Linked DNA regions of Homo sapiens. The protein of the gene in region 2 purifies or fractionates together with the protein of the main gene of each other region. This does not show direct contact. Each region holds a gene or a part of one and is shown on either strand. Other genes may lie near its edges. The genes, in order: DET1 and ETV4.

Region 1 (3,817 bases), on a different chromosome or scaffold from region 2:
AAAGAACCTTTCTGAGGATTTTGAAATTACCGAGAACTAAGAGAGGTATAGCTGGACAGAGTGACACTGGGGCAGGAACTAAAGTGTGAAGACATCGAAGAGAGTGACTGCTTTTAATCAGTGGGGAGCATGGAGAGTGGAGGTGGTAGGTGCTGTGGAGGAAGAGGAACTGTTTCAACTTGTAGATTATCACAGATGCTTTGATTTGTGGTCATCACAAAGCTGTGAGCCAGCCCCCATCATTTTACCTTTGAAAGCCAGGGAGTCGGTGAGTCAGGCAGGGCTAAGGTGTAGATGAGATGGTGCCAGGTCTTGCTGAAAACCGAAGTGCCCAGGATCTTTTATTTCAGCTCAAATGAAAGGGAAAAAATAAGCTCTATTTGGCCCAAGATTTATTTTTATGATTTATACTGAGGCTGTGAAAATTACTGTCAGTAGGAGTAATGGAAAAGCAGTGTTGCTTGCTAGGCTTTCTTTAGGGGGAGCAGAAAAGTGTTCATGTCCATCTAATACCATAGGTTAATAGTGAAAATAAAAATTACCCCCAACTAATTAATCTTTGTGGTCTCATGAAAGTTAGGAACACTGAAGTTTTTTATTCCATTTGTTTCAGGGATGAGATATTATACTTTTCTCCCAGACTAAAAAAAATTGATATCCCCTTGATTGTTGAACCATATGATATGCTTGAATATAGAGGTTTAAAAAATATATACTGATAGACAGTTGACATTCTTTCTAAGAAGCTGTAGGATAGTGAAAAATAAGGAAAAAATTCAAAATGTCATTATACAACTATTAACATTTTAATGTGTTTCTGCCAGTCTTTGCTTTAAGTGTGAGTTTTTGTTTTCTTTGTGTTTTTAGCCATATTATATAGACAGTATTGTATCCTACTTCTTTTATTTGTAAATGTGATAAACATTTCCCCTGTTACCATATAATCTTTGAAAATGGTAGTTTTCCATTAGCTTTTTAATTTTTTCTTCCTCTATAAACAATGCTGTATGAATGTACACAGAGATTTTTCTGCATGTAGGAGTGATTCCTTAGGGTAAATTTCCAGAAGAATAGAAGTACTTGTCAAAGAGTATTAAATTTAGTTTTGTGGCCAGGCACTGTGTCTCATGCCTGTAATCCCAGCACTTTGGAAGGCTGAGGTGGGTGGATCGCTTGAGGCCAGGAGTTGAAGACCAGTCTGGGCAACATGGCGAGACCCTGTCTCTACAAAAAAAAAAAAAAAAATTAGCTGGGTGTGGTGGCACGCACCTGTCGTCCTGGCTACTTGGGAAGCTGAGGTAGGAGGATTGCTTGAGCCCAGGAGAGGTGGAGGTTGCAGTAAGCTGGGGTTGTGCCACTGCCCTCCAGCCTGGGCAACACAGTGAGACCCTGTCTCAAAAAATAAAAATAAAATAAAATTTAGCATTTGTGACAGTGATGAGAAATAACTGTTCTGTTATTATTTTCAAAGATAAGTCAGATATATGACTCTATGTATGTTACTATTCTTCTAGATACTGGTGTCTCTGCAGGAATATAGGTAGCTAGTTTCCAAATTTTATTTAAACAAACAAAGAATGCGTAATTTATTTGTGAAAGGCTTGCTAGAAGTTGGTGATCCCAAGAAGAGTCAGAGGCTGCTTCTGTTCAGGGTTCTCTGTAACTCCTTCCTAATTCAGTCTAAGGCAATTATTTGGGGAAAATAAGTTCTTGACCTTTTTCCCCAGTTGAGCTGTTATTAGAAAAGAGTAGAAATAGTTGCCATAAACTAGTTATACTCATTTTAAACTTGTTTGTAGAGTCTTTGTTAACTTTTCTAAAGTAGGGCCGGGTGTGGTGGCTCATATCTGTAATCCTAGCATTTTGGGAGGCCAAGGCGGGCAGATCAGTTGAACCCAGGAGTTCAAGACCAGCCTGAGCAACATGGCAAAATCCCATCTCTATAAAAAATACAAAAATTAGCTGGGTGTGGTGGCACGTGCCTGTAGTCCCACCTACTCTGGGGGCTGAGGTGGGAGGAACACTTGAGCCTGGGAGGTCAAGGCTGCAGTGAGCTGAGATCACACCACTGTACTCCAGCCTGGGCAACAAAGCGAGACCCTGTCTCAAAAAAAAAAAAAAAAAAACCCAAAACCCAAACACATTTCTAAAGTAATTTGTTGTTTTCCATTTTTAGTTATATGTTTTGCTTTTTAAAAGTATTTGTAGCTGGCCAGACTTGTAATGTGTGAGAGACAGTTCTATCTTAATTCATTACCTAGGTTTTAATTTGTATTTAAAGAATGAGTTGTTCTTAGACATATATTTGTCAATTTAAAATTCAAGACAGCTTTGTGTACTCACTAACAAAGCCTTCCTCACCGGTCCTTTCATTTAGGTTCAAAGACACTATTATAAATGCCAAGTATGGAGGGCACACAGAGGCAGTACGCCGGCTGCTGGGTCAGCTCCCCATCAGTGCTCAGTCTTACAGCGGTAGCCCCTATCTGGATTTGTCTCTCTTCAGTTATGATGACAAGTGGGTATCTGTCATGGAGCGGCCCAAGACTTGTGGAGATCACCCAATCAGGTACAGTGTCACTGCTATAGCTACAAACTGCTCAAGGGCTGAAGATGGCCTGCTTTCTTTTTCTCTTTTTCTGGACATCATTTGATTGTGACTGTGACTCGTACTCATGGGTAAGGTTGAAAAGGCAGGCTATTTCTATAATGCAGTGAGAGCTGTGATCATTTAGGTGCTAGTCTCCTAAATTATTCCTACTCTTTGCTTCTCATCAGAACATCTAATTCAGATAAGTGTTGTCCTCTTTTAAAGGTATCCAGGGGAGGAAGCTGTACTTTCCCATTTAATAATCTAATACCATTCCATAATAGTTTTTGACATTGAGACTTTATAATTATGTATCTAACACAAATTATTTTATCCCGCCATGTTACCTCATAGAAAAAATAGCAGAGACAATTTGGGGACCTGCTGACAGATTTAGAAGAAACTCATGCTTCCTCACTTGGAGGAATTTTGGAATGTAGACTACTGTGTTATTGTTAGAAGTTTGAAACTGACGTCTTACAAGAAATTCTTTCCTCACAGAAGTCTAGTTCACAGACCCAACTGTCACTACATATATGGAGCCTGTTCTGTGTGCTGTAATAATATTAGGGGGAGGAGCTGGAATTATTGTCACTAGTGGAGTTATCTCAAGGGGGGTGTGTTCCTGAGGCTATAGGCTGGAGCTTGGAAGGTCTTTTTCACACAGAAACAGTGGTAGTTAGATCTTTATGATAGATATATTTCATCATCCAGTCTCATTGTGTATTAAATGTGCCTGTGTGACATAGTCTGTATAATTAATCACCATTTATAATATTTCCTTTGGGAAATTAGAGTCAAGTTCCAAAAACTAGTTAATATTTTTTTTATTATGGAAAGTTTTAAACGTATACAAAAAGTAGAAGAGCATAATAAACCTTCATGTACCCATCACCCACTTCAACAGTTACCAGCTCGTGGCCACTCCTGTTTCAGCTATTTCCATCACGACCCCTACTCCCTCCCCTTCCCACCACTGTCCTGGGTTATTTTAAAGGAAATCCAAGCTATCCTAGCAAAACAAGTAACACCATTACCCCATCTTTAAAAAATTAACAAAAAATCTTTAATATCTTCAAATATCTAGTCAGTTTTTATGTATCCCTGTTGTCTTATAAATATTCTTTTTATAGTTAATTTGTTTGCATCAGATTCAAACAAGGTTCATGCATTGCATTTGGTCCCTTCGGTCTTTTTTTTTTTTTTTTTTTTTTTTTTTTATAAGAC
Region 2 (3,817 bases):
TTCAACCAAGGTTTTCATTCCAGTTATTGCCTTGGTCTTTAAGATCAAACCCCACTGTGTTTTAGGAGAGAACAAGCTGCTCTCTTGTGATTCTCTATCCTATGACTCACTTCCTGCCATCCTCCACTCCCTATACCCTCTCCCCAGGGACCTCTACTCACGGTTTTCTGAATGGAAATCAGGAACAAACTGCTCATCACTGTCTGGTACCTGAGCTGCAGAGAGAAGTCAGAGGTGAGTTTGGGGCGGAGCCCTGGTTGTCCCCTGGGAGGCTCCATTATTACAGCCCTGCAGATTAGCAACAGCCAAGAAAGGACCAACAGCCTTTAGATCAGGGGTGTCCACATTGTAAGAATTGTCTTGGGCCACACATAAAATACACAAATACACTAACACTAACGATAGCTGATGAACTTAAAATCACAAACAAATCTCATAATGTTTTAAGAAATTTTACAAGGAATTTATGTTGGGCCTGGGCCGCATTCAAAGCTACCCTGGGCTGAAAGTGGCCCACAGGCCCACGGGTTGGACAAGCTTGCTTGAGACTAAAGGCTGCTCCACCCTAGGTCCTAGTGTCTTCCACCTCTGGGCTCCACTAAGACCCAGGAGGGAAGACTGTTCTCAGAACCTGTCTGAGCAGATTCCAGTCTTTCTTCTTCTAGATGCTTTGTCTTTATTTCCTCCATTTTTCTGAAGTGAAACAGCCTCGCCCCTCAGAGTTTACAAAACTCCCTTAAAGCTCACAACAGTCATATCTAGGATGGGCAGGCATTATAAGCAGTGGGATCCTGTGGATTTAAAAATCACATAGGAGGCGGCCAGGCATGGTGGCTCACGCCTATAATCCCAGCACTTTGGGAAGTCAAGGCGGGTGGATCACCTGAGGTCCGGAGTTCGAGACCAGCCTGGCCAACATGACGAAACCCCATCTTTACTAAAAGTACAAAACTTAGCTGGTCGTGTTGGCGGGAGCCTATAATCCCAGCTACTCAGGAGCTGAGACAGAAGAATCGCTTGAACCTGGGAGGCAGAGGTTGCAGTGAGCTGAGATCGCACCACTGCACTCCAGCCTGGGCAACAAGAGTGAAACTCCATCTCAAAAGAAAAATAAAATTAAATAATAAATAAAATCACATAGGGGGGTGGCTGGGCGCAGTGGTTCATGCCTGTAATCCCAGCACTTTGGGAGGCTGAGGTGGGAGGATCACTTGAGATCAGGAGTTTGAGACCAGCCTGGCCAACAAAGTGAAACTCCCATCTCTACTAAAAAATTAAAAAATTAGTCAGGCGTGGCGGTGGGCACCTGTAATCCCAGCTACTCGGAAGGCTGAGGCAGGAGAATTGCTTGAACCCAGGAGGCAGAGGTTGCAGTCAGCTGAGATCATGCCACTGCACTCCAGCCTGGGTGACAAAGTGAGACTCTGTTCCAAAAAATGAAAAATAAAGGCCGGGCATGGTGGCTCATGCCTGTAATCCCAGCACTTTGGGAGGCCGTGGTGGGCGGATCACGAGGTCAGGAGTTTGAGACCAGCCTGACCAGCATGGTGAAATCCTGTCTCTACTAAAAATACAAAAATTAGGCCGGGCGCGGTGGCTCACGCCTGTAATCCCAGCACTTTGGGAGGCTGAGGCGGGCAGATCACCAGGTCAGGAGATCAGGACCATCCTGGCTAACACAGTGAAACCCTGTCTCTACTAAAAATACAAAAAAAATTAGCCGGGTGTGGTGGCGGGTGCCTGTAGTCCCAGCTAATCCTGAGGCAGGAGTATGCCTGAGGCAAGAGAATGGCGTGAACCTGGGAGGCGGAGCTTGTAGTGAGCCAAGATCAGGCCACTGCACTCCAGCCTGGGTGACAGAGCAAGACTCCATTTCAAAAAAAAAAAAAAAAAAATTAGCTGGACGTGGTGGCACGCCTGTAATCCCAACTATTCCGGAGGCTGAGACAGGAGAATAACTTGAACCCGGGAGGTGGAGGTTGCAGTGAGCTGAGATCACACCACTGCACTCCAGCCTGGCGACAGAGCAAGACTCCATCTCAAAAATAAATAAATAAAATAAAAAAGGAGGATGACAGTGGGAGAGCAGGAGGCTGGTGACTGGGACCACTGCAGAAGGCAAAGGACACTGGCTGAGTACATAGGTGCCTCATCCCCTTAATGTGCAGCTAAGGAGGGGAGGGATTCCCAAGGTTGGTGATCCGAAGAGCTCTCCCAGGATGCCAGGATGGGTGGAGCTGGGTTGGGGAATAGGCAGGAAAACTGAAATACAGCAGCAGCTCATCCATGGCTTCTAACCTGAACATCAAACTCTGATTTCTAGTTCTTATTCTGGCCTCCCCAGAGCGGGGCTTCTCAGGTGGTTATACAGCTAAGAATCTCCCTTGATCCCAGAGTCTTGGCCCACTTTTGCCCCTCTCTCAAAAATAAATGGATCACAGCAGGAAATGTAGACACCAAGAAGAACTTCCTGATATTATTCCAGGAAGAGAGTGGTTCTAGGGTGATGCAGTGGAACCTGTAGCCCGAGGAGGCTGGACTCTCCTTCCCTGGAGACTGCTCTCTCCTTCCCTGGAGACTGCTCTCAGATTGGACAATGGGGAAACTGATAAAATGCCCAGAGAGGTCAAAATGGCTGGTGAGGGGTATGAGATGGCTAGAAAAAACCTCCACACCCCCGGCCTATACAAATACATATCCCATCTCTTTTGCTTCTCTCTAGGCTAAGGCTCCATCATTTCTTACTTGGATTTCACCCACGGCCTCTTACCAGGATACCCTATTTTCATTCTTACCTCCTATGGTCCCTTGCTCTCCACCTAGGTGTCACAGTGATCTTTTTACAACAGAAATAAAATCATTTCTCTCTGTTATTTAAAGCATGAAATCCAAACGCTTGCCCTTGGCCTCCAAGGCTCTGCATGACTTGGCCTTGCCTACCTCTCTGACCTGCCTCTCCTTGCCTGTGAATCTGCAGCACTCTGGTCTCCTTTCTAGCCCTCAAAGCTGCTGAGCTTGTTCCTTCTTCCCCAGATGCTTTCTTGCCTTTTTCTTTTTTTCCTGACCATCAGAGTCTCAGCTCACTTTGACATCTCTGGAGAGGCCTTCTCTGACCACCCCTAAACCAAAGTGGTTCCTCCTGGCTCTCTATTGCATCTATGTTTTGTTTTCTCCCTGGCACATATTGCCACCTGAATATATTAATTTATGTTTACCTGTTTGTTATCTACCTATCTCCTCCACCAGGAAGTTAAGCTCTGTGAGGGCAAGAGCTTTATCTTTTTTGTCATCTGATGCCCCAGCACCCAGCACAGGGTTAGAGTAGACGCTCAGTGCTGTTATTTCTTGACTACATGAATAAACATGCAATAATCGTTTGTCCTCAGGCTGGCAGAAGTCAGCACTGTGGGCCTGAGGGCATGCACTGAAGAGATCCTGACCATCCTAGCCCTTCCCTGCAGGCTCCCCCTCTCCACACACAAGGCAACACTAGAGGCAGGTCCTCTCCAGGAAAGCACATCTCACAGGGGATATTTTAGGTTGTGATATGTTGCTTGGCAAGAATATTCTTCAACAATTTGCTTTAAATATCAGAGGTGCCAAGTGTTTATAAACATAGGCTTATATTAATAGATAGTTGATTTCTTGACAGAAGCATTAGGGAGAGGGAGTTTAACAATCACAAGCCACCAGCAGCTAAACGAGAACTTAGGACAAGTCAACATAATAATACTTTGGTCTGAAGTGACCAAAGACATCAATGAGACATGAAATCCGCTGGCAAGAACAAACAGAAACACACAGCCAGCACACATCT

The links.
Region 1: the proteins of ETV4 (region 2) and DET1 purify together in Homo sapiens (affinity purification with mass spectrometry; one large-scale study listed by BioGRID and IntAct). This does not show direct contact.

Annotation. Positions count from the first base shown.
Region 1 is NC_000015.10:88,515,534-88,519,350, reverse strand, and holds part of DET1 (DET1 homolog), read left to right. Parts: intron 1-2,377; coding exon 2,378-2,569; intron 2,570-3,817. UniProt on the Homo sapiens protein: Component of the E3 ubiquitin ligase DCX DET1-COP1 complex, which is required for ubiquitination and subsequent degradation of target proteins. The complex is involved in JUN ubiquitination and degradation.
Region 2 is NC_000017.11:43,536,265-43,540,081, forward strand, and holds part of ETV4 (ETS translocation variant 4), read right to left. Parts: intron 511-3,817; exon of another isoform or gene 216-510; coding exon 162-215; coding exon of another isoform or gene 148-161; intron 1-147.